Linked DNA regions of Homo sapiens. The protein of the gene in region 1 purifies or fractionates together with the protein of each later gene. This does not show direct contact. Each region holds a gene or a part of one and is shown on either strand. Other genes may lie near its edges. The genes, in order: HNRNPH3, EPS15L1, HNRNPA2B1, GSTK1, DNAJC3, RPRD1B and PLEKHA7.

Region 1 (3,500 bases):
AGATTGCTGGGACAGCGACCGGGACCATATGATAGACCAATAGGAGGAAGAGGGGGTTATTATGGAGCTGGGCGTGGAAGTATGTATGACAGAATGCGACGAGGAGGTGATGGATATGATGGTGGTATGTGTATCTAATGAACAAAGGTTCTGTTGTCATTTTCTTAATGTTCCTGACACTTTGTCAAGAAATACAGAAATGGCAGTAATTTCAGTACCTATTAGGTTTTAAAACCTGTTCATGAAAATACGGATTCCCATGGCTAGCTGTGGGACTTGACTGATGCACATATTGGCACCTAGAAAACTTACACAGAAATTAAAATTAAGATGTTGGCATATTTTGACCTTTTTTTGCCTAAGGATGAAATTTAATTTACATGTCTGAACTTAATTAACTTTCTGAGATTTTAAATTTCCATCACGTTGACTGCTTTTTTCATAGGTTTTAAGTTGGGAATTGCAAACTTGCAATCAAGTTACACAGACTGTTACCACAAAATGTTTTTGTAAACTAAATTATAAAATTTATCTCTGGAAAGTGTGTAGTCATGTGTTTCTCCTTAAATTACACAGGTTATGGAGGTTTTGATGACTATGGTGGCTATAATAATTACGGCTATGGGAATGATGGCTTTGATGACAGAATGAGAGATGGAAGAGGTAAAATAAATATTAAAGACATTTTTATTCATAGGTAAATTTTAGTATTTGCTTTGCAAGCTCTTAGTGGTAATATAGGAAACTTGTATAAAGTTAATTCAGACAAATTTCAGTGCATTCCTATATAGAGCTTTATACCTTGTATAGTATGTATGTATACTTCCCTACTTGTATCTGTAATAGTTTATAATCTTGGCAAATTGTGTTTTCCAGGTATGGGAGGACATGGCTATGGTGGAGCTGGTGATGCAAGTTCAGGTTTTCATGGTGGTCATTTCGTACATATGAGAGGGTTGCCTTTTCGTGCAACTGAAAATGACATTGCTAATGTGAGTAATTTTTAATAACTATTAGTGGTTTTATACTTATCCTGGTGTCTAAATCTTTAAGCATTCTTAATGTTCTCATGTTTATAGCTTAATACCAAAATCCCTTGAATATAAAAATAGATCTACCTTTAATTCTTTTTTTGAGATGGAGTCTTGCTCTGTCCCCCAGGCTGAGTGCAGTGGTGTGATCTCGGCTCACTGCAAGCTCTGCCTCCCAGGTTCACGCCATTGTCCTGCCTCAGCCTCCCGAGTAGCTGGAACTATAGGTGCCCGCCACCACGCCTGGCTAATTAGATCTACCTTTAATTCTAATCACTGATGGATATTTTTGTATCCATTGTGTGTCAACCTACATAGGATTCAAACAAGTAAAAAGCTACATTCGTGAAGTCCAGTTAAGAGTATAATGAAAGACTGATCAGCATAGAATGGTGATGACTATACCATTTTGTGCTGGTGTCTTTTGTTGTACCGTTTTTTGTTTTGTTTTCTTTTTTGAGACAGAGTCTTGCTCTGTCGCCCAGGCTAGAGTGCAGTGGCGCGATCTCGGCTCACTGCAACCTCCACCTCCCGGGTTCAAGTTATTCTTCTGCCTCAGCCTCCTGAATAGCTGGGATTACAGGGGCACACCCCACCACTCCTGGCTAACTTTTTGTATTTTTAGTAGAGATGGGGTTTCACCATGTTGATCGGGCTGGTCCTGACCTCATGATCCGCCTGCCCTGGCCTCCCAAAGTGCTGGGATTACAGGCGTGAGCCACTGCGCCTGACCTGTATTAGGGTTTGAAAGAGTGAATATATAAATATTAGTGATTTGGTTTGGCTTTCTAGGCTAGATGGTGATTAGAAACTGAGGAGTTGGAAATAACAGGAATAGATGCTGCTGTTGTCACTGATGTGAAACTGGTTGGTTTCAGATTTGTTAGGAGGTCAGCAAACTTCAGTCCATGGGCTAAATCCGGTCACACCATTCCTCTACCTGTTGAGTGGTTACATTAGAGACCCAATGGCCATTCAGGCCAAAAGTACTGACTCTGGCTTTAAAAGCAATGGTGTGCTCTAGATCTTACTGGGAATCAGCTGGCCTGAGTTCCAACTGCTTTTAATGATAGTTTAAAACCTGGCTAACTTGTGATTAGAACCAAATGATATCTTTTGGGGAACAATTTCATATAGTCTTAAATAGGTGGCTTTATTCAAACCGCATAGTTCCAAATCATGATATCCCGTATTTCTCTCTGTGTGTTTGTGTGCTTTTTTTTTTTGACAGTCTCCCACTCTGTCTCTCTGAGGCTGGAGTGCAGTGGCGTGATCTCTGCTTACTGCAGCTCCCACCTCCTGCGTTCAAGCGATTCTCTGTCTCAGCCTTCTGAGTAGCTGGGATTACAGGCGTGAGCCACTGCGCCCTGCCTATCTGCTTATTTTAAAAGCAGTAAATTCTTTACATTATCCCTAAGTGTATACTCTGATATTCACAGAACCTCTGTAGTTGACTAAGTTATTAGTCTGACAGGGCAGTGGAAGGGTTTGTTTTAATTGATGAGGAAAAATCAAGGTATGTGGTAATTTACTTTAATATTCTCAATAGAAAAGTAAATAAGTGTTTCCTTTTATTTAGTTCTTCTCACCACTAAATCCAATACGAGTTCATATTGATATTGGAGCTGATGGCAGAGCCACAGGAGAAGCAGATGTAGAGTTTGTGACACATGAAGATGCAGTAGCTGCCATGTCTAAAGATAAAAATAACATGCGTAAGTGGTGTCTTTGGCACACAATCTTATTTCCTAAACGTGAATTTATAAAATAAGAGGCTCTAAGATCTGTAGGTAACGCTTGGCAGTTGTTGGGATTTAAAACCATTTGACCTCTATAATGGCTTTCTGTGGGCTTTATATATCGCTGTACTAGTAATTAATAAGCATACTTTGTTTAATATTACTTAATTGATCTTTTTTACAAAGCTTGTATTGATGAATTTTATCCATCATTCCTTTCTCCCCTGTTACTCTTTCTTTTTTTCTTAAAGAACATCGATATATTGAACTCTTCTTGAATTCTACTCCTGGAGGCGGCTCTGGCATGGGAGGTTCTGGAATGGGAGGCTACGGAAGAGATGGAATGGGTATGTAAAGTTTTTAAAATATGCAGGGTTAGCTGCTTATCGATGAGTCTCAATTTTTTTTCTTTTTTCTTTTTAAAGATAATCAGGGAGGCTATGGATCAGTTGGAAGAATGGGAATGGGGAACAATTACAGTGGAGGATATGGTACTCCTGATGGTTTGGGTGGTTATGGTAAGTATCTCTAGTTCAGTTTGTGTTAGTCCGCATATGTAGTGCAAACTTTAAAGTGCAGGTATTACTTTTATTATTTTATGCAGATATCTCCTGCTGAGTGATTCTTAATATCTTTTTCTTAAGGCCGTGGTGGTGGAGGCAGTGGAGGTTACTATGGGCAAGGCGGCATGAGTGGAGGTGGATGGCGTGGGATGTACTGAAAGCAAAAA
Region 2 (3,500 bases), on another chromosome or scaffold:
TGCCAGGAGCCCAGATTTCAGGGGCTGGGAACCCAGCAGGGAGCAGGAAAGACAGAGCTCCTCGACCCTCCCGGAGCCCATGGTGTGGCAATCATAGGACAAAATGGTGGCTTTGGAGCCCATGGTCTGATTCAGACGCCTGTTCTCCATGGGGGTCTGACCAGTTGTTTTACCTCTCTCCCTCTCAGTTTCCTCATCTAGAAACAAGCACAGGGACAATGGCACCATTGTTGGTCCCACAACATTCCCTCACTCCTGCATCAGACCTGTGCCCCAAATCTCTCCCCAGGGCCCAGAGCTGCCTGCCTGGGCCCACTCACTGGTGAGGGCAGTCAGGGTACCACCAGGGCTGGGGTCCCGTTGCCACCTGTTCTGGGAGACCAGGTTACCAGAATCAGGGAAGTGGGGGGGAGGGCATGGTGGCTCACACCTGTAATCCCAGCACTTTGGGGGGCCAAGGTGGGTGGATCACTAGAGGCCAGGAGTTCGAGACCAGCCTGGCCAACATGGTGAAACCCTGTCTCTACTAAAAATACAAAAATACAAAAAAATTAGCCAGGCTTGGTGGTGTGCACCTGTAATCCCAGCTACTTGGGAGGCTGAGGCAGAATTGCTTGAGCCCAGATGGCGGAAGCTGCAGTGAGCCAAGATCATGCCATTACACTCCAGCCTGGGTGACAAAGCGGGACTCCACCTCAAGAAAAAATAAAGTAAAACAAAGAATCAGGGAAGTGGGACTCTGAGAAGGCAGAGAGGGGGCCAGGAAGCTGTGAAGATGGTGGTGGGAGACAGGGCCTGTGCAAAGGGTGGGGGCAGGACACTGGTCCACGCAGTGTACAGCCAGTCAGAGAGGCTGCACCCAGCTGCTTCCTCCAGGCCTGTTGGAACAGAGGAGGGAAAAGACAAAAGGAGGCACAGGCGCCCTCTTCCTCCTGTCCTTTATTCCCAGCCCAGTGGAGGTGATTCATCCCACCGCTGTGGGTGCCACCTGACTTCCACGAGTGTGTCACACTATGTCCTAATTTTCTGTGTGCCTGGGTGCCCAGCTGCAGTTGAGCTGACCTGGAGGGTGGGGCTCGGTTTTATTTATCTTGGTCCCAAGACAGCACACAGTAGCTCAGCAGACAGAATCTCATGGTGCCCCAGCCCCAGAGCTGGTCTTCTTTTTGACTGTACCTAAATGTGGGGTCTCACGTGGCTTGGAGGGTTTCCTGCAAAGTGATGGGTTTTGACTCAACTGACACAGCCACAGCCCACCAGGCTCTGCCCACCAGGCACTCCCACTGCTGCTGTCCTGGCTCCCTGAAGGTGGCCTCAACCTGACGGTTGCAGACACTATGCCTGCTTCTTCCCCCTGCTTCCTCTCCCACCTAGACCCTCACCTGTCCAAACAGCTACCCCACATATTCCTTTCACCCCCAGCCCTTTCTACTCTTCCTGAAACAACCTCAGGCCAGGTTCCTCTTGATCACTTCATGCCCATATCACAGAGACTGTCTCGGAGCTAGAACCCAGCTCCAAGCACTCCCTGTGTAAGCAGCCAGATCATCTAAAGGTGTCACTCCTCAAGAACCTGCCATAGCTCCCTACTGCCTCTCATAATGTGGCCCATGCTACTCTTCCCTCAACAGATGATTGTTGAGCACCTGAGTGCCAGCTGCAGCCTGGCAAACAAGGATGAATAAAACAGGCACAGTCTCTGCCCTTGTGGACCTAGTCTAGGTGGTTGGGGAAGACAGACCATCAATCAACCCCGCAAAGAGAAAATTATAAACGGCTAAATGGAAAAGGTGTCCATCTCCACCAGTGGTAACAGAGATGCTGGGCCAGTTTGTCAGGAAAGGCTTCCCTGAGGAAGTGATGCCCCAGCTGATATGAAAAGGTGTAGGGATTCACCAGAGGATGAAGGGTTTGGAAAGAGCATTCCAGAGAGAGGGAATAGCAGATGCAAACGCCTTGAGGCAAGATGAAGGATCGCCTGCGCAGATGACAGAAAGAGGGGCCAGGGGGCCACAGAGCAGAGGGAATGAGGACTGCAGGCCTGGGAAACACGGGGAGCAGGTGTGCTGTCAGCTGCCGGTAGCAGCGCCTGATCCAGCCTGGCTGGTGTGCCCAAGAGGAGGAGAAGTGACTTTATGTCAGCCTGACCTGCAGGCAGTCAGTAAACAGATTCTGTTATCAGGTCTACATTCCACACCACAGGCAGTGCAGATGGAAATCCGAGACAAATGTCTGTGGTCATCTGTGACCTTTACTTTCACCCCAAAGCTTGTAGTATCAAGAGCTGGGACTCCTATGAAGGGAAAAGCCCAAAGAAGCTTTAAGAGCTAATGGTCTGCACTCCATGCAGGAGCAAACTTCAGGGCCACCACTCTGACCAGCGGTAAAACCCAGTCCAGCGCGAAGGACAGTGGGCAGGTCTCAGCTCCTCAGCCCCCACCAGCCACTGGCCACTCTCTCGGCAAGCAGACATCCTGTCAGTTCGGCCGATTTGTAGCCCAGACACAAACTCTCACGTCTTATTTACCAAAAGACCTTCCTCCTCTCATCCCTGAGCTGCCTAAATTAAAGGAAGGACATGAACCCCAAAGTCCCAGCCGCATGTTTTGGCCCTTTGACCTAGACCTGCAGCCTCTCAGCTCTGGCTCAGTCCTCTTTGCCTCCGTGTGAAAGGCTATTCCCCATGGCCTAGACCAGGGGTGTCCAATCTTTTGGCTTCCCTGGGCCACACTAGAATTGTCTTGGGCCACACATAAAATACACTAACACTAACACTAACACTAACACTAACACTAACACTAATGATAGCTGATGAGCTTTAAAAAATTCACGGGTGGGCATGGTGGCTCACGCCTGTAATCCCAGCACTTTGGGAGGCCAAGGCGGGCAGATCACAAGGTCAGATCGAGACCATCCTGCCTAACCAGTGAAACCCCGTCTCTACTAAAAATACAAAAAATTAGCCAGGTGTGGTGGCGGGTGCCTGTAGTCCCAGCTACGCAGGAGGCTGAGGCAGTAGAATGGCATGAACCCAGGAGGCGGAGCTTGCAGTGAGCCGAAATTGCACCACTGCACTCCAGCCTGGGCAACAGAGCGAGACTTAGTCTCAAAAAAAAAAAAAAAATTCACAAGAAAACCTCATAATGTTTTAGGAAAGTTTACAAATTTGTGTTGGGCTGCATTCAAAGCCATCCTGGGCCACATGCAGCCATGGGTTGGACAAGCTTGGCCTACACCAAACACGCCCTCTCCTCCATACAACCATGTCCAACACCCAAATGGAAGCCAGTCATCTGCCCCTCCTGCAGCTTGGACCACCCGTGACCTGAGCCTCTGCTGTGGGCCGGGCCTGGACAACTCAATTCTGCATGGGCCAGGAGCACTGATTACCACTCTGGCAGGGAAACCTTTGGATTCTCCTAAAGACAACTGGCTGGGAGTGGTGGCTCACACCTGTAATCTCAGCGCTTTGGAGGCAGAGGCAGGAGGATCACTTGAGG
Region 3 (3,500 bases), on another chromosome or scaffold:
AATGCAGACAAGACACTTCACTCAAGTATGAACTACTATCTGAAAATAGATTCAACCATTTTTGCCCTACCTTCTTTCAGTCTCATCCTGATAAGCATGTACAGTTACAACCATAAATACAACAAATGTCTTTAATAAAAACCCCTAGTTCACTCAAAATGTTTGATCCAAGAAATGTGAATACACAAGGGTGTAACGATGGGAAATCTCATGATTTATTGAACTTGCAGCCTAACTTTTACCTACCATTTTACTACCAACACCACTGAAGGAACCAAGAAAAGCTTTATTAATGATCACTTGGCTTGCCTCAGCTGTTGAAATGAAGCACTTTACAGTCTTTGTGGCAGCAGAATATACTTGTCCATGGTTCATATCAATGCTAAAATTCCGGCAGGGAAAAAAATGATATGTTAAGCACCCAAATCTTCACATGGAGGGGGAGGGGGTGGGAAAAGAAGGAAAAAAAGGGAAAAACAACCAAAATAATTTAAGTAAATGACAGATTGGAAAACAGGGTTTATAAAAATTATTCTCTTGAGTTTATAAATTGTTAAACTCAATTTATAGCTATGTTAAACTACGTAAGAACCACTATACTGAAAGACCATTTAAGAGTATTAGTTTATCTTTTAGGGAGGAAAATTAAGAAAGGAAAAGTAAATAAGATCTTACCTAAAGAAGTTTAACTGAAGCTTAGAACTATTTTGCTCTACACCCTCAGCTTTCGTTGGCATCCTTATAAACTACTGTAGTTAAAGTTTTGTAGAAACAGCACAGTTTTTTAAGACTGGCTGAACTTAGTAGCCGTCAAGAGTTCTCTTGTACTAGACCTGTGTCCCTGAAGAGTACCTCGCTGGGGTTATTTCCTTTCCTTGCATTGAAGAAGCAGCATCTAAAAGATCTAAAAAGGTGTTTCTCCTTGCAGAGATATCCCTTAAGTTATCTACATAATTTAATCCTGATGAATTGCAGACAACACACTTACATCTGACCAGCATTTATCTTATACAAATATAACAACAGCTTTGCAACGGACCTTAATTATACTACCCACTCCTTAACTTATTTAAAATAAAAAGTCTATAATTACACAATTTCCTTTAGAATTATTTTATTAAATCATAAATGTACAACAGCTTCTTAACTCTACACACGCACTTAAATTTTTTTAAAGGAAAAACGTTATGTCTTATTACACCATGATCCTGGCTAATAGCTTTTCAAAACTTTGAGAAAAATCTTAAAAAAGGTTTCACATGTCACCTGAAACTTACAAATTTAACATTATCAAAGAAGGAATGCTTCTACACTCTTACAAAGACCACTAGAAAGAAACAACAATTAAAAAGCTAAGAAACTGTCTCAAAGGCATTTTTTTTTACAATCCTTCCTCCACAGTAAGGTAATGTTATTAAATAATCCAATCCATTCACAAAATGGCTCTCTGCATCTGCTCTGGTGTCTTCTGCCATATCACTGCATATTTATGCATGACTGAGATAAGAGTTTCCTTAACATTGTTATTTCGATAACCTGAAGCTGTTCTGTTACCTCTGGGCTCTCATCCTCTCCTATTTATACAGTGAAGCCTGTTTCAACAGAAGTAAAGAGTAAAAAAAAAATAGGTTATGAAATTATCCATCTAACCAGATTTTAAGGAAAGATAACATGATCCTAAAAAGCTTTTACTCCTGCAGCTATGTCTCCCAAGATAATAATAATTGTAAAACTCAAAAGCTACTTACCCATGGCAAATAGGAAGAAGCTCAGTATCGGCTCCTCCCACCATAACCCCCACTTCCTCCACTGCCTCCTGGACCATAGTTTCCTATAATTGTTGGAACAGCAAGAGAAAACAAACTTACTTTGATTTCCCATGATCAGCCTAACACTACAGTTGATTCTATTTTATATCCATCCAGTCTTTTAAACAAGCAGATCCTAATCCTTTGCAGCCAGTTAGCAGAATTACTCAGGAGATAAATTACTCGGGTTCATAGACATTTTTATTTCGTGGCTGACCCTATTCTTTTAAATAAAGGGTCCTTTCACCCTCTCATCCTCATTTGGACTGAGTAAGGGATTTTTTTAAAAGTACATCAAGCCCAAGACAAAGCTAGTTTACTCCTAGCTAAAAACCTCAAAAATAAGCTAAGCAATGGTTTGAATCATGGTTTAAGGATTTAACTTCAAAGACCCTCATTCCAATGTATACCACTTGCAATGTGGGTTGCAACTGTATTTAGCTGTTTATGAGTCCCCACCAGAAATTAAACTACTGAACACCCCCACCTCCAACATCCCTAATCCCAATTTGATGTCATAACTGCTTGCTGAGTACTTCTGTGGAGATTTATGCAAAATTTCTTTATTTTCACTAAGACCGTACATGGAGCACTGCCCACAGTACAAACTACTTAGTATGTTATCTTCCCTTTAAGTCACAAAAGGCTAATCCTTTAATCACAAAAATCTGAATAACCTCAATTTTTATAAATTACCTCCACCATATGGTCCCCCCATGTTCCTGCTACCACCAAAGTTTCCACTCTTCATTGGACCGTAGTTAGAAGGTTGCTGGTTATAATTTCCAAAATCATTGTAATTTCCACTTCCATAATTTCCTATTAAAAAATTGGAATACTCAGAACAATACAAACATTAAACCAAGGACTTAGGACAAAGCTCCCATAAAAACAAATAAAAGCAAACACTTATCCACAAATTTTATGGGCATCTAGTGACAAACATGGAAACAAAAGATCAAGTGTTACAAAGACATTAATTCCAAATTCCCACATAAAGGTTGCAGGTGAATTTATTACCTCCTCCATAGTTGTCATAACCACCTCCGTAGCCCCCACCCTGGTTGCCATATCCAGGTCCTCCACCACCATATCCTCCTCTTCCTCCTCCATAACCGGGGCTACCTCCAAAATTGCCACCTATTATAAAATAAGCCTTTAAGTAATCACTTAATATTTTCAATACCATTTTGAACTGTCTCCTCACATCCATTTCCAGCTTTCCAAGTTTCCATGTGAAATATTTAATGAAATTCCTCTAAAATAGCTTCAAGGACTGAATAACTATCCTTGGTAAACATTTGGTGGCTGGGGTTACTCAGCCAAATGGATAACACCATGTGCACACAGTTAAATACCTGTAATTCCACAGCTTTCCCTCAAAACTAAAAATCTTAAGTATCTTGAAATACTTCATGTATATTGTGGGTAAGGACTGTGAGGCTAGACTAGTAGTGTGGGCTAGAGGGAAAGTAAAAGAGCACTTCCTCCTACTGGCCCAAAAGATAAAGTTTCTATTATGTCTCTCTACGAATTACATATCTTAAAACAATGTTCTCGGTTGGGCACAGTGGCTCATGCCTGTAATCCCAGCACTTTGGGAAGGCCGAGGCGGACGGATCACGAGGTCAAGAGATTGAGACCACCCTGGCTAACACGGTGAAACCCCATCTCTACTAAAAATACAAAACA
Region 4 (3,175 bases), on another chromosome or scaffold:
TGGAGTTTTCTCAGAATCTGCACTGAGGGTTAAGGGAGGTATCTATGAAAGGGTGTGCAACTTCCCCAAACCGCAGCAACTCCAGCCAGTTTCCCGGTACTGCCTTGCCCTGGTTTTGCAGGTGTGGCTGGACCCAGTTTAAATATCTGGCCACAAGCTCAGCCAGACTCTGGTTCCCTCGGCTGTTCACTCCCACTGGGCTTCTGGTCCCAGCCCCATCTCAGTCACTGTGGTTGGTCAGAAGACAGTAAATCCCAAACTTGATTAGTTGCAAAGTCCATCTGGCTTGGTTTTCTGTTGCTGATAGAGAGACCAGGGGAGTTTCTGTGTGAGAGAACGGGGGACTATTCTCACTTCTTCCACCGCACAAGCTGCTCAAGGTGGGCTGCATGGCTGGTCTGGCTGGAAATACTGAAACAGCTCTCCTTCACCTACCCCTAGAGTAGGCAGGATGTGACCCCAGGAATGAGAATATACCAGGGCAGATACAGACACAGAAATGTTTTGCCTGATGGCATTAGGTTTATTTTGTGGGAAAGCAGAATTGGGGCTCTCTGAAAGGCACTTGTGAGGCATAGAAGTAAAGGTTGCCACATGGCTAATGGTGGACGTCTTCCTGGCATCCTTGGGGGTAGGGGAAAGACAGACAGCTCCCAGGGCCACAGAAAATACCTCTATCAGATAGAGAAATCCGAGTCCCAGTGCCTTATGGTGGAGCCAAGGGTTAAGCAGATGGCCTGCTTTTTTTATACGAAGAGTTTGCTTCCTCCGGGCAATCTTAAAGTCTGGCATTCACGGCTGGAGGTATAGGGCCCATCCACTTCTCTCCTGGATGAAGAAAACAACAGACTCTGCACACTGTTCTCAGGTGTTCTGGCAGCAGGAGTTGGTCCCACAAGGTCCCAGGGGTTTTCTAGAAAGACTTTTGCTTGGCTTCAAGGTATAGAAGGCTTCCTTTTCTTTTATGGGGTTGAAGACAGCCCCTGCCCACTCAACCTTGAACAGCACTGACTGCATAACGCTTTGTTACTGGAAGTGCCAAGAATATTTTTTTGCTCTGAGCCCCTCCTTCTGGTCAACTGATATAGTGGGTGTGGAGCTGGGGTCAAAGGCAGCTCAGGGTTGAATCTTTTTATTTTTTGAGACGGAGTCTTGCTTTGTCACCCAGGCTGGAGTGCAGTGGCGCGATCTCGGCTCACTGCAACCTCCGCCTCCCAGGTTCAAGTGATTCTCCTGCCTCAGCCTCCCACTGAGGCAGCTGTAGTCCCAGCTAATTTTTATATTTTTAGTAGAGACGGGGTTTCACCATGTTGGCCAGGATGGTCTTAATCTCCTGAACTCGTGCTCTGCTCGCCTCAGCCTACCAAAGTGCTGGGATTACAGGCGTGAGCCACTGCACCTGGCTCAGGGTTGATTCTTTAACTTACTTACCCAGCAGGTGCGCCAGCAGCTCCATCCGGTCAGAGCCAAATAACATGTGGGTTTGGCCATCCACATGGGCCACGGTGATGGGCAGCCCAAAGGCCTGGAGAAAGCAGTTACAATGCAAGGAGGAAGGCAAAGGAGCAGGTATTAGGCAGGGGTTGAAACCTTTGAGTCAGTACTTTTCTGAGTTCACAGAAGCAAAGAGGTCTAAGAGGCTCTGTGGCCCCAGGTGCCTTCCTGTTTCTAAGATGCTCTCTTTTCTCTCACTGTGCATCTCCTTCCCTTCCTTTCCCTGAGCCCAAGGAAAAGAAGGAAGAAGATGAGGGTTGTTTAAGAGCACTGAGGAGAACACTTGGAAAGGGGGCTTTTGTACAGGAGCATAAGGACTCAAACTTAGAGATTCTCAAGTCTCCATCTTCAGGATGGGTGCTGGGAACACACATAAAGAGCTGCTCACTCCGTATCTGCAGGCTGCCTCAGTGGTCTCCTTGAGCTGGTTCTTCACCTTTGGCGTTGCGATCTTTTCCAGAAGTCCCTGGGCTTGTTCTGCAGACATACCAGCCTTCTCTGCAGCCTAAGGGAATATAGTAGGGAATACAACTGTGTCTGCATGATATTGGATGGGGATCTCAGAGGAAAACTCTGGTCTTTTTATTTTCTGCCCCCAAGTTTTGCTGGCAATGCCCTTACCCACCCACAAGTGGAGATCTGTCCTTGCCAAGAGGAACTATTTCCTTTATCCCAAATCTTGAGATGGGTGGAAAAGGAGAAAAGGTAGATGGCACAGAGTCAATCACAGAAATTAACACCAGCGGACATCTTAGAGAGCAGCTAGATAGACCTCTTTATTTCACAAATGAAGAGCCTGAATCCAGAGGTGATACATTACTTGCTCAGAGTTACAGAGCATGTTGGTAGCAGAGCCAACACTAGAATCCAGGTCTCTAGAATTCAAGTCCAGGGCTCTTTCCTTCCTACCTCTCACAGTTCCTAAGTATCTCATGCTTTTTTTGAATCAAGAGCTAGGCTGTAATTCCAGTGGAACTTCCTGAGAACTTTGTAACAAGGCACATGGCTGCAGCCACCTACCTGGCTTCAAGACAAAGATAAAGGCTTCAGTTTGTGGTTTGTTGGTATAGTTTGGGATAGATGGTTCTTAACTTTGGCTGCCCATCTGAAACTCCTGAGGAGCTTTAAAAAATCTCCACGTGAGGTCATCCCTTAGAACTAGATCCAAGCACTGTGGCTCATGCCTGTAATTCTAGCACTTTGGGAGACTGAGGCAGGAGATTGCTTCAGCCCAGGAGTTCGAGACCAGCCTGGGCAGCAAAGTGAAACCCCCATCTCTACAAAAAATTTTTAAAAAATTAGGCATGGTGGCACATGCTTGAAGTCCCAGCTACTCGTAAGGCTGAGATGCGAGATCACTTGAGCCCAAGAGGTTGAGTCTGCAGTGAGCCATGATCATGCCACTGCACCCCAGCCTGGGTGACAAAGCAAGACACTGTCTCAAAAAAAAAAAAAAAAAAAAAAAAAAGAAAGAAAGAAAAAAAAGAACAAGAACAATTACATCACAATTCCAGGGGAAAGGGTTAGCGCCAAGGTGCTCCAGGTGATTTTAATTCACAGCCAAGATTGACAACCACTGCAACTTGACTTCCTAGATCAGAAGTGGGACCCAGGAATTCATGTAGCCTGTCCTAATGAGACACTATCTTTGACTTGGTTAAATTAGAGAATTATGTCCTAC
Region 5 (3,500 bases), on another chromosome or scaffold:
GGGTAATTTATAAAGAAAAGAGGTTTAATTGGCTGACGGTTCTGTAGGTTGTACATGAAGCATGGCTGGGGAGGCCTCAGGAAATTTACAATCATGGCAAAAGGTAAAGGAGAAGTAGGCACATCTTCACATGGCCAGAGCCGGAGGAAGACAGAGAGGGGGGAGATACTGCACACTTTTAAACAACCAGATCTTGTGAGAATTCTATCACAATAACAGCTCTGGGGGATGGTGCTAAACCATTAGAAACCACCCCCATGATCCAATCACTTCCCACCAGGCCCCAGATCCAACACTGGGGATTACAGCTGAACATGAGATTTGGGTGGGGCACAGATCTAAATCATACCACCCCACCATTACACAATATACCCATGTAACCTGCACATGTATATCTTGAATCTAAAATAAAATAAAGTTAAACAAAAAAAAAGATTCTGCCCTCAAATGCTGGCTCCTTTGTGAAACCTTCCCTCACACTGTATTGTTTTGAGAGAGGGAAAAAAAGCTCCTTCAATCTTCCTATATTTTGCATTTCCACACTCAGAAGTACATGACTTCACTTTGCAATATCACTCTCTCTATATATTGCTTTTCACAATTTGCCTGCTTCTCAAAGTCCCAACTCCACAAAACTTATCAAAAGCAAGTTTGAGAGGAGGAGCTGTCTTTTCTTCTTTGTATCACCTAATTCAGTATCCCGCACATAGTGGGTATGCAATATTTGTTGAATGAATTTAACTATTTGCCTTTTTACTTAAACGTATTATAATTCATCAGAATAAAATCTAAAATACATAACAATTATCAAGTCAAACATATGATCAATGATTCATAAAGACACATCTGAAAAATCAAATTATTTGCGAATTATTGGCTGTTTTTGCAATCCACTCTCTTTTGAGCCACAGGTAATTTTTATTCCTTTGCCACATGGTCTGTAAACATTATTTTCAGAGAGGTAAGACAACCAAACATCATGCCATTTCCTAATCAGCATTAGACAATAGGTTTCTCCTTAGACAAGCAGTGATCATAAGTCAGCAAAATAAGCAGCAAGGGCAGGGAAAAAGGTAGAGTAGCCAACTATGTCTTTCACTGAAATTAGTATTAGAATATCTTATATTTTGGAGAGCAGAAAATAAGGATTTTTTTAAACTTAAAGGTGGGGGGTTAAAGGTATGACGTGAGTTACAATCAAGACTGGAAGAACCAGACTAAAGGAGGCAAGAACTCATAGTCAAAGATACTAAAGTTCAAGCAAAGGCGGTGGCAGACCCAGACCAGAGAGCAATCCCAGAGAGAGAGATGGTTATTCAGGTTGGAGCACTTAGAATATGAGGAATGAGGAAAGCCCTAAGTTTCTTCTCTAAAAAAGAACAGAAGGCTAAGCCAAGACTCTAGCAAGGTGGGGTAGAGTCTAAAAGAAGTCTTGTAGCAGAAACACAGAAGACAGTGGAATCTAGCCAAAGAAAGATAGTACAGGAAGTTCAGCATCTACTATTATCTGAATGTTCTCTCCAAAATTCAGGTTGAAATTTTTTTTATAAATTACTCAGTCTGTGGTATTTTGTTATAGCAGCACAAAGATACAACTGTAGGAGCAACATTTTCAGAAGGTGAGAGGAAATGGAATCCAGGGTGTAAGTACACAGATTAGATTTATCTGGGAATAGAGACATTTAATGTATTTCAATATGAGAAAAAGTAGCAGAATAGGTACAAATGTAGATAAGCTAGTGAATTTTGAGGTAGAAAGAAGAACTTGCCTTGTGATGGCTTTCATTTTCTCAGTAAAGACAAGGTCTAAAAGAATGAGGTAGGGGAGAGAGGAAAGGAGAGTTTAAATTAGAGGCTTCAGAAAGGAGGAAAATGTTTGAAATATTGATTTTCAAGAATAGACATAGTAAAGAATTGTGGGAGTGTTAGCAGTATTTAATGTGCATTTGCGACTGAGATTGTTTCTTTAAAATGAGACTAATCAGGGCCAGGTGCATTGGCTCGTGCCTGTAATCTCAACACTTTGGGAGGCCAAGGGATGAGGATTGCTTGAGCCCAGGAGTTCAAGACCAGCCTGGGCAACATAGAAGACCCTGTCCCTACAAAAAATTTTAAAAACTTAGTAGGGGATGCAGTGGTGCATACCTGTGGTCCCAGCTATTCAGGAGGCTGAGATGGGAGGACTGCTTGAGCCCAGGAGGTCAAGCCTACATTGAGCTAGGATCATGCCACTGCACTCCAGCCTGGGTGACAGGGCAAGACCTTGTCTCGAAAAAAAATTGAAAATAAAAATAAAGATAAATGAGACTAATCAGCAAAGTTGTCTCCATTTTCCTCCGTCCGTGTTTACCTATAAGGTATAAAAACAGTTGGCCAAGTTGAATTTAACCAGTGTTGGGTTTTGGCAGGTGAGTAAAACAGAAGATTACAGGGGCCAGAAAATAAATGGGCATTTGCAGTACACTAACTACAATAATGGACCACTCAGTCTAAAGCGGGAAAGGAGAAAAAGAGGACGTGAATGCTTCACAAATGCATGTCTTAAACCCTAAGTGGTCTGTAAACTCAAAAGCAAAAGCCATGAGTTCTATGCTACGTATATATACCTCACCAAAGAGCAATATAGTTAGTAAAAGCCTTTGCTGACTGATTAAATGAGTCTTCTCCATATTCCAGAACTCCAAATGATACAAACTCATCAGATTTAATTTTTTTAAGTAGCTTTCTAAAGATATGGAAAGAAAAATAAATCTATGGTTGAAATGTTTGCGTTCTGAAGAGCAGGTGAATGGGTTCCCATGATACTTCCATATAAACAAAGATTAACTGCAGGACACTAATCAAAAGAGACCACAGCAGTAGAAATTAAACTTAACAACAATTAATTAACTTCATATGGGAAAATAAAACCTAATTACTACAGTGCATCCCCTCCCAGAACAACTTCCCCTACCTCACAGAATGAAAACCACTGCATTTCCAGGCAGTTTCTCAGCAAATACTAACTATGTCAAGAGAACTGGAACTTTGATACTACTGCTAACTACAGCCTATCTTATTAAAGAATTTAAAATAATTCTAGAAAATATGTGACCACCTTTTATGATACTTAATTTATTTAAATTACTTAAAGTCACTCATTTTTGCTACTTTATTCTTTCCCTATTTAGATAATGTCAAGAAAATCCTAGAAAAGACAAAACATACCTTTAATAGGTTAGGTTCAAATAAAACTTATCATGGTTCAAATAAAACTTATCACAATATTTTATACGTATAGATTTTCAACTATATATTTTCAACTATTCTTTTCCCCATGGCCAAAATATATGGTTTAATCAGCTCAATGAAATAAAGAAAAATTGGGTCCAGATAGCATGTTAAGGAAGAAAAAGAGATAAAACTATGATAAGAGAAAAAAGGTTTCGTTCCCAGGCTGTGTTGCTACTCAAGTCACCAAGAGGACAAACCATTAGCAAAGAAATGAAATAACTTCCTTA
Region 6 (3,500 bases), on another chromosome or scaffold:
CTAGACTTTCAAAAAAAAATCAGAAACCCACTGAAGCTATTCCCAATACTATCACTGCCACAAATTCCACACATTCCCAGAGTGCAAACCTATTCCTCACTCTTTTCTCCCTCTTTCCTATAGCATCTAGCATATCTGTTTATTCAAAGTATGTGTCCAGCAAATGTACATTAAATTGAAATTCAACATTAGCTTCAAACATCCTCTTTCAAGGCTCTCCTACTTGCCCAAAGGTGTTCTTAAAAACCAGCACTGTTTACCAATGAACTCTAAGGCAGAGTAAAGAATGCTGAGTAATTCCCCAAAGCTGTACTGAAGACCTCCAAAGGACACAATAAAAACACCAGAATCCAAAGCAGGAAACATCTTGCTTTTCAGAAGCTACCAATCACCTGAGTGATCCTAAAATTATCTTCTAGCAACACCAAGTAAAACAACAATGACCTGCAGTCTGAAAGCACTTATGTCATTCACAGAAAGCCTCTAACCTTTGGTTTCACAGGAAAGTTACCCACTGCAAAATGCAAATAATTCCAGACCTGGAAAGGATCATGAAGGGTACACAAAAGGGTTACTCAGTGAAGGATACTGTCACACATGCTAATCATGACTAGGTTCTATAGCAGATGCATGTATAAAGTACCAGAGAACAAGGAGGGAATGACCACATGGGCCCAGACAAGCCAGGGAAGATGTCAGAATGAGAGTTGCATTCTTGGAGAATGAGTTCATCACACAGTGAAAGCGGTAGAAGGACATCAAGTAGAGGTAACAGCAGATGGAAAGGAAGCAGTGCCAACAGAGCATCCAGAGGGTAAACTGTCGGCAATTCAGTTTGGCCAAAGAATACAGTGTAAGTGAGGAAGTGGCAGGAGAAGAATCTGGAAAAACAGGCTAGTTCAGATAGAAAGGGTCTTCAATACTATCAGTACTTGGACTCGATCCTCCAGGAAACATGTATGCAGGCAGATCAGATCTGTAGCTAAGAAACATGTCATGCCAACTAGAATTAAACCACAACTAACCAGAAGCCAAGTAACTAAACAACATTTGATCTTACTCTTTAAAGAAAAAAATAGGCCAGGTGAGGTGGCTCACGCCTATAATATCAGCACTTTGGGAGGCTGAGGCGGGTGGATCACGAGGTCAGGAGTTCAAGACCAGCCTGGCCAAGATGGTGAAACCCTGTCTCTACCAAAAATACAAAAATTAGCTGGGCATGGTGGCAGGTGCCTGTAATTCCAGCTACTCGGGAGGCTGAGGCAAAGAACTGCTTGAACCCGGGAGGCGGAGGTTGCAGTGAGCTGAGATCATACCACCGCACTCCAGCCCAGGTAACAAAGCAAGACTCTGTCTCAAAAAAAAAAAAAAAAAAAAAGAAAAAAAGAAAGAAAAAAGAAAAAATAATATAAGCTCTTATTAAGGGCTTTGCAAAATTCACACACAGATGCACTTCCTAAAGATATCCTGGGTTCAGTAAAGATCAAAATCAGTTTTAAGCTGGGCGCAGTGACTCACACCTGTAATCCAGCACTTTGGGAGGCCGAGGCGGGCAGATCACTTGAGGTCAGGAGTTTGAGACCAGCCTGGCAAACATGGTGAAACCCCGTCTCTTCTAAAAATACAAAAATTAGCCGGGTGTTGTGGCAGGTGCCTGAATCTCAGCTACTCAGGAGGCTGGGGCAGGAGAATGGCTCGAACCCAGGAGGCGGAGGTTGCAGTGAGCCGAGATCACGCCACTGCACTCCAGCCTGGATGACAGGGTGAGACTCTGTCTCCAAAACAAACAAACAATCAACTTTAGACAGACACCATGCTGACAATCCTAAGGATATGTTTCAAAAGCACATCTACATTTAATTAAATCAAGTTCTTAAAAAGCTAAGAAACTTATCCAAGGTCCTATTGTAGTTAATGGCAGAGCAAGGACAAAATCTTAGTCCAGGCTACTTCCTAGTTCACCACAACTCTGAACAACTTTGTTGTTCCTTTCCTTGTGCAAGGAAAGTCTCTGAAAGACAGAAGCAAGCCAAGGAGAACAGAGAGCAAAAGTCAGGGTGTGAGAGGATGAATAGCATGAATACTAGAACCAGGCTTACACGCTGTGAGCACTACATAAATTCTCACCATCATTCATGATCATCTGTCTCTCTGAAGAATCATAAAATCGCTGGTGGTTCACAGCAAACCCCACTGCAGCTTTTCATATTTGATTCGAAAGTAGGCAAAGACCAAGAGCTGTAAACATGTGGTGATGTTTCTACCTTTGGGGGGAGGGCTCTTGGAGTCCTCCATAGACAGCTTCAGCTGCTGTATGAACTCGCCGCCATACACACTTCGTTCTTGCCAGATGTTCAGCAATCTTTCTAAAGGTTTTTTACAGCCTTCATCTGCCTCTCTGCCCAGAAAAGATGAAAAGATATATATAAGCTTAAGATTTTTTGCTTTTAATTAGGACAGACCTACTTAAAAAAAAAAGAAATCAACAACTGACTAAATGATTTACACATTTAAAACCAAATAAGGTACATATTGTAATACCTGGATACCCAAAACTTGACCACAAACTACATTCTTCGTGCAGTGGGAGGGATCATGCCATAATTGAAATCAAATAGGACCAAAAGTCAATGGCCAATTTTTACAGACAGAAAATTATCAAAACTCCATCTTATCAGTTGTGATAGCTTGCTTTTTAAGAAGACGTTAATTAAAATGCCAGACATTCTGCTGGAAATTAAAAGTGGATCAGAACTCTTAAAGATAGAAAAATGATTTTAAAAAACCAGATGTTTAAAACAGGAAATAAATTCACTGCAACTCATCAATTCTAACACACCAACACCTCTACATGTATAAACACAATCACATACATGTATATGTCAAGAATCATTCCAGTTCTAACCACTGCATAATTATTTTAATTCTGGGCTAAGTCCATAGTCCAGGTTCACACAAAGGTATCTGATAATCTTAGAACACACTTAATAATGCAGTCCTTCATAATTTATATCAAAGGATATGAATTAGAAGTTAGAAAATGTTTTCCCCTGACATGTTAACTCCTGAAACAGGATATAAAGGACTATAACTAGCACTCACTGAGAACCAATTGCCTACAATAAAATCTCAGACAGCAAGCAGAAGATTGGGTTAGACTTTCTGAAAGCAAAGTGAATTCAGTCACCATGCACTGTTACCATGAAATCTTCTGTTTTGTGAGGGGGTTTAAATGGCAACGATCTTATACTGAATGACTTTAAACAAGAAGGGATACCTCGACATCTTAGTATCTAAGTTAAATGGCTTTTAATAGGAACTTCAAGGAGAAACCATGCCAATTCAACTGAGATGGGAACTCTATTCACACCCGACCATGACAACGCTTTCATAAACTCAAGGAGAACTTAGGTTTCAGCCTAGCCCAGTCAGAATGTCTCACTTATGAATTATTAGTGGTAAATTTCACTGACTAAAGGACTCAATCAGAGTACATAAAA
Region 7 (3,500 bases), on another chromosome or scaffold:
CTGTGTCAATTCTGTCATTAGGACAAATAAAGGCACTGGCAGTAAAAGGGCTTCAGGAAGTTTTTTTCAGGAAAGCAACAACCAACAGTGCAACCTCACCCAGACTCAAGCTTTTTTTTTCTTCTGCTTTGAGACAGTCTTGCTTTGTCACCCAGGCTGGAGTGCAGCAGCGTGATCTCGGCTCACTGCAAACTCCACCTCCTGAGTTCTCGTATCTCAGCCTTCCGAATAGCTGGGATCACAGGAGTGTACCACCACACCCAGATAGTTTTTGTATTTTTAGTAGAGACGGGGTTTCGCCATGTTTGCTAGGCTGGTCTTGAACTCCTGGCCTCAAATGATCCACCCACCTCGGCCTCCCAAAGTGGTAGGATTACAAGTATGAACAACCACACCTGGTCTCAGACTCGAGCTTTGAAGATTGAGTTAACTAGTTAACTAATCAAAGATCAGGGAAGAAAGGAGAGGCACTGCCTGTGGAAAAAGGTGGGTAGCTGAAAAATGTTTCTGGCAAAATTCATCTTGAAAGAGGAGATAAGCCTAATATTCCCCTACATTTCCCTGATACGCTCTTCCCCTTCACTGGGGACCCAGTGACAGCCAGGTGACCCTAAGCAAGTCATTCAACTTCTCTGAGCCTCAGTTTCCTCATCTCTAATATGGGGGTTAATAGCTGCCCTCTGGACTGCATTGTACTAACTCAGAGGAAGGAAAATGTTGATGAGATAGGGCTTTGCAGGCTATGTCTTGTCATTCACCCTACCGATTTTCCATGTAAACTGGGAGCGCTGACGGTGTGGGTCATGTAACCCATGGAGGGCATGGAGCGTCGGTCCACATGAGATGAGTTCTGCAAGTGGGGAGACAAGAAGTCACACTGGAGCCCAAACCTCTGCCACTCACTCCCAGGGAAGCCGCCCCATGCCATGTCCCCTCTGAGCCCCAGACTTCTCATCTATGAAATGAGCACACACATCTTACTCTCAGGGTTAGAACACTAAACTGTGAAAGCCTCTTGGAAAGTGAAAACTTAAGCTGGATTGTTATAATTTAACTGACTGGACACAGATGTCTTTTCCTGCCTTTCAAGATGCAAGGAAGCTGACTTGTAGTTGTGTGACCCTGTGCAAGTTACTTTGTCTCTCAGCGCCTCAGAGTTCTCATCTTTGAAATGGGCATAAACATAGCACCTACCTCACAGGGTTGTGGTGAGAATTTAAAGCGAAGCCCTTGGGAACTGTGCCTGGCATCTATTATTAAAATGTACTGCCTAAGTATTAGCTATCATTATTATCCCAAATTACTCAAATTTGTGTTCAAACCAGGCAAAGCTCCTGGCGCCCTCATGATGACCCAGCAGCCTGGCAGAGCTTCCCGAGCCTCACCTTGACAGCGTGGCCCCGTGCCCTCCTTGGAGAATCCCCCAGCGAGATGTCCACACTCCTCCTCTGGTCCGGTGGCTTCACTGTGACTCGCTCTGCTGGTGTGTGTGGCCGCCGGGGTGGGAAGACCCTTGGGGGTCCTGGGGGAGGGATGTCCGAGGGAGATGGAGGCACAGAGATGGAGCGGGGCACCTCTAGCATGCTCCTGCTCCGGCCCTGGTCGGTGAACTCTGGGGAGCCAAGGCAGATGGGCGCTGTGGGGCTGCCGTGCCGGAACTGCTGGCGCTGCTGCCACTCGTAGAGCTGCCACACGGTGCCATCCCGGTGCGCCCGGCGCTCTTCACTCGACATCTTCAGGTGGCTGGCTCGGTCCTGCGCATACTTGTAGTCACTTGGCAGGTTTCGGGGAGGTGGCGAGGAGCCCCCCGAGGGGTGTCGGGTGCTCTTGGGAAGAGTCTGGTAGTTTTCTGGGAAGGACAGGGATTGGCCAGGACCCTGGCGAGGAAGCGTCTGGTCCAAGGGAAGACTGAGGAGAAAGGGTAAGAACGGGTCAGGCAACCAAGCGAGGGTTCTGCAGGCTTTGGGGAACATATCTAAGTAAACCCACAAAGCTGGGCATGTGGGACAGTCCTGTAAGAACCTCAAAAGAATGATCAAGGCCGACATCCAGGACTTCAGTCACTTCCCCTTTTGGCAGACGACTCCAAAACCATTTTTCTCTGTCAACTTCCTCTGCCAGGACAACTTGGCTACCCCATGCCCATCACTTGGAGTGCAATGTGATTAAACCTGGCTTTTCCTTCTCTCTCCGCTGCCAGCAGTCAGCTCTTTCAATGGCTATGCATATTTATAGGAAAGGCCTCACAATTCTCCAAGTTACCAAGATTTTCTCTCTGCCTGGTATCCTTAGCACCAAGTTCCAGAGGTTCATAAAGGAAGTGGTTGGCATCAGTTCTCTTTTTTCTGGACTCTTCTAGTCCAGATACTGATTAATTATCTCCCTCCAGACAACTCTGAGATGCTCCTAATGGGTTTCCACTTTGTCCACAGTCAAGTGCTCTGATCATATCAGTTCCTTGCTGCAAAAACTTCCATGGCTCCTTGTCCCTTCTGAAATAAAGTCTAAACTCCTCAGCCTGGTACTCACAGCTCGCTAGCAGCTGACCTCAACACCCACCTTGCAGGCCTGCTGTTTTCTCACTGCTCTTCCTACGGGCCACGCCAAATGCCTAGGGCCCAAAACTGAAGGAAGTACTCCATCTCAGGGTCACCCCTACACCTGCTGGTGCCTGACAGCCTCACCCTAGTCCCGTCCCAGCCTCCTCCACACCTTAGCAACATCTTGCAACGGAAAAAGGAAAAAGGAGTCTAACCTGGGTTTGAAGCCAAGCTTGACACTTGCTGGCTTTGTGACCCTAGGCAGCTCACCTGACTGCTCTGACCTTCCGTTTCCTTACTTGTAACAGGAGGATAGTATTACCTGCCTCATAAGGCTCTTCTGAGGAATCAATGAGACAGGTTAGGAAATGCAACCCCCACATCTGATACACAGAAGGTCCTTCACTAACGTGTGTACCCTTCCTGCCCTTCTTACTCTTATAACACTGTTCTTCCCTCCCCCTGCCTGGATGGTCTCCCCTTGCTCTATTTACCCAAGTCTTACTCATTCTCTAGGATGCTGGCTCATGCCTTCCCCCACGTGGACCTTCTGTAGTGCCACAGCCCTCAGTGATCCAACTCTGTTTGACCTCGTCATCACACTGCCTGTAACTTTTCCAAGGTCCTATATTGATGTGATCTTTTCATACTTCCAAGACATGTTTTCCCAGGCCAAGGTGAAAAATTCTTGAAAGACAGGAACTGTGTTTCACACCGTGGTATTGTCCACAGTCTAAGAAAGTCCTGTGCGTAATTAGCCCTTCAATAAACACTCCAGCACACAAAACTGGATATGACTTCAAAAACTAACACCAACTAGCCATCTTATTTTCTTTCTTTTTTTTTTCTCTCTTTTTTTTCTTTTTTGAGACAGAGTCTTGCTCTTTTGCCCAGGCTGGAGTGCAGTGGTGCAATCTCTGCTCACTGCAACCTTCGCCTCCTGGGTTCAAGTGATTCTCC

Evidence for each region.
Region 2: the proteins of HNRNPH3 (region 1) and EPS15L1 fractionate together in Homo sapiens (co-fractionation; one large-scale study listed by BioGRID). This does not show direct contact.
Region 3: the proteins of HNRNPH3 (region 1) and HNRNPA2B1 fractionate together in Homo sapiens (co-fractionation; 3 studies listed by BioGRID and IntAct, with this or other methods). This does not show direct contact.
Region 4: the proteins of HNRNPH3 (region 1) and GSTK1 purify together in Homo sapiens (co-immunoprecipitation; one large-scale study listed by IntAct). This does not show direct contact.
Region 5: the proteins of HNRNPH3 (region 1) and DNAJC3 fractionate together in Homo sapiens (co-fractionation; one large-scale study listed by BioGRID). This does not show direct contact.
Region 6: the proteins of HNRNPH3 (region 1) and RPRD1B fractionate together in Homo sapiens (co-fractionation; one large-scale study listed by BioGRID). This does not show direct contact.
Region 7: the proteins of HNRNPH3 (region 1) and PLEKHA7 purify together in Homo sapiens (co-immunoprecipitation; one large-scale study listed by IntAct). This does not show direct contact.

What each region holds. Positions count from the first base shown.
Region 1 is NC_000010.11:68,338,564-68,342,063, forward strand, and holds part of HNRNPH3 (heterogeneous nuclear ribonucleoprotein H3), read left to right. Parts: coding exon 1-124; intron 125-576; coding exon 577-663; intron 664-876; coding exon 877-992; intron 993-2,548; exon of another isoform or gene 2,549-2,610; coding exon 2,611-2,746; intron 2,747-3,021; coding exon 3,022-3,117; intron 3,118-3,195; coding exon 3,196-3,288; intron 3,289-3,414; coding exon 3,415-3,491; 3' UTR 3,492-3,500.
Region 2 is NC_000019.10:16,461,971-16,465,470, forward strand, and holds part of EPS15L1 (epidermal growth factor receptor substrate 15-like 1), read right to left. Parts: intron 1-3,500.
Region 3 is NC_000007.14:26,190,747-26,194,246, forward strand, and holds part of HNRNPA2B1 (heterogeneous nuclear ribonucleoproteins A2/B1), read right to left. Parts: intron 2,949-3,500; coding exon 2,829-2,948; intron 2,628-2,828; coding exon 2,505-2,627; intron 1,832-2,504; coding exon 1,770-1,831; 3' UTR 1,749-1,769; intron 1,593-1,748; 3' UTR 1-1,592. UniProt on the Homo sapiens protein: Heterogeneous nuclear ribonucleoprotein (hnRNP) that associates with nascent pre-mRNAs, packaging them into hnRNP particles.
Region 4 is NC_000007.14:143,266,441-143,269,615, reverse strand, and holds the end of GSTK1 (glutathione S-transferase kappa 1), read right to left. Parts: intron 2,000-3,175; coding exon 1,883-1,999; intron 1,526-1,882; coding exon 1,432-1,525; intron 829-1,431; coding exon 779-828; 3' UTR 501-778; downstream 1-500. UniProt on the Homo sapiens protein: Glutathione S-transferase that catalyzes the conjugation of glutathione to exogenous and endogenous compounds. Significant glutathione conjugating activity is found only with the model substrate, 1-chloro-2,4-dinitrobenzene (CDNB).
Region 5 is NC_000013.11:95,680,139-95,683,638, reverse strand, and holds part of DNAJC3 (dnaJ homolog subfamily C member 3 precursor), read right to left. Parts: intron 1-3,500. UniProt on the Homo sapiens protein: Involved in the unfolded protein response (UPR) during endoplasmic reticulum (ER) stress.
Region 6 is NC_000020.11:38,047,246-38,050,745, reverse strand, and holds part of RPRD1B (regulation of nuclear pre-mRNA domain-containing protein 1B), read right to left. Parts: intron 2,401-3,500; exon of another isoform or gene 2,399-2,400; coding exon 2,265-2,398; exon of another isoform or gene 2,144-2,264; coding exon of another isoform or gene 2,128-2,143; intron 1-2,127. UniProt on the Homo sapiens protein: Interacts with phosphorylated C-terminal heptapeptide repeat domain (CTD) of the largest RNA polymerase II subunit POLR2A, and participates in dephosphorylation of the CTD by RPAP2. Transcriptional regulator which enhances expression of CCND1.
Region 7 is NC_000011.10:16,815,415-16,818,914, forward strand, and holds part of PLEKHA7 (pleckstrin homology domain-containing family A member 7), read right to left. Parts: intron 1,909-3,500; coding exon 1,386-1,908; intron 851-1,385; coding exon 764-850; intron 1-763. UniProt on the Homo sapiens protein: Required for zonula adherens biogenesis and maintenance. Acts via its interaction with CAMSAP3, which anchors microtubules at their minus-ends to zonula adherens, leading to the recruitment of KIFC3 kinesin to the junctional site.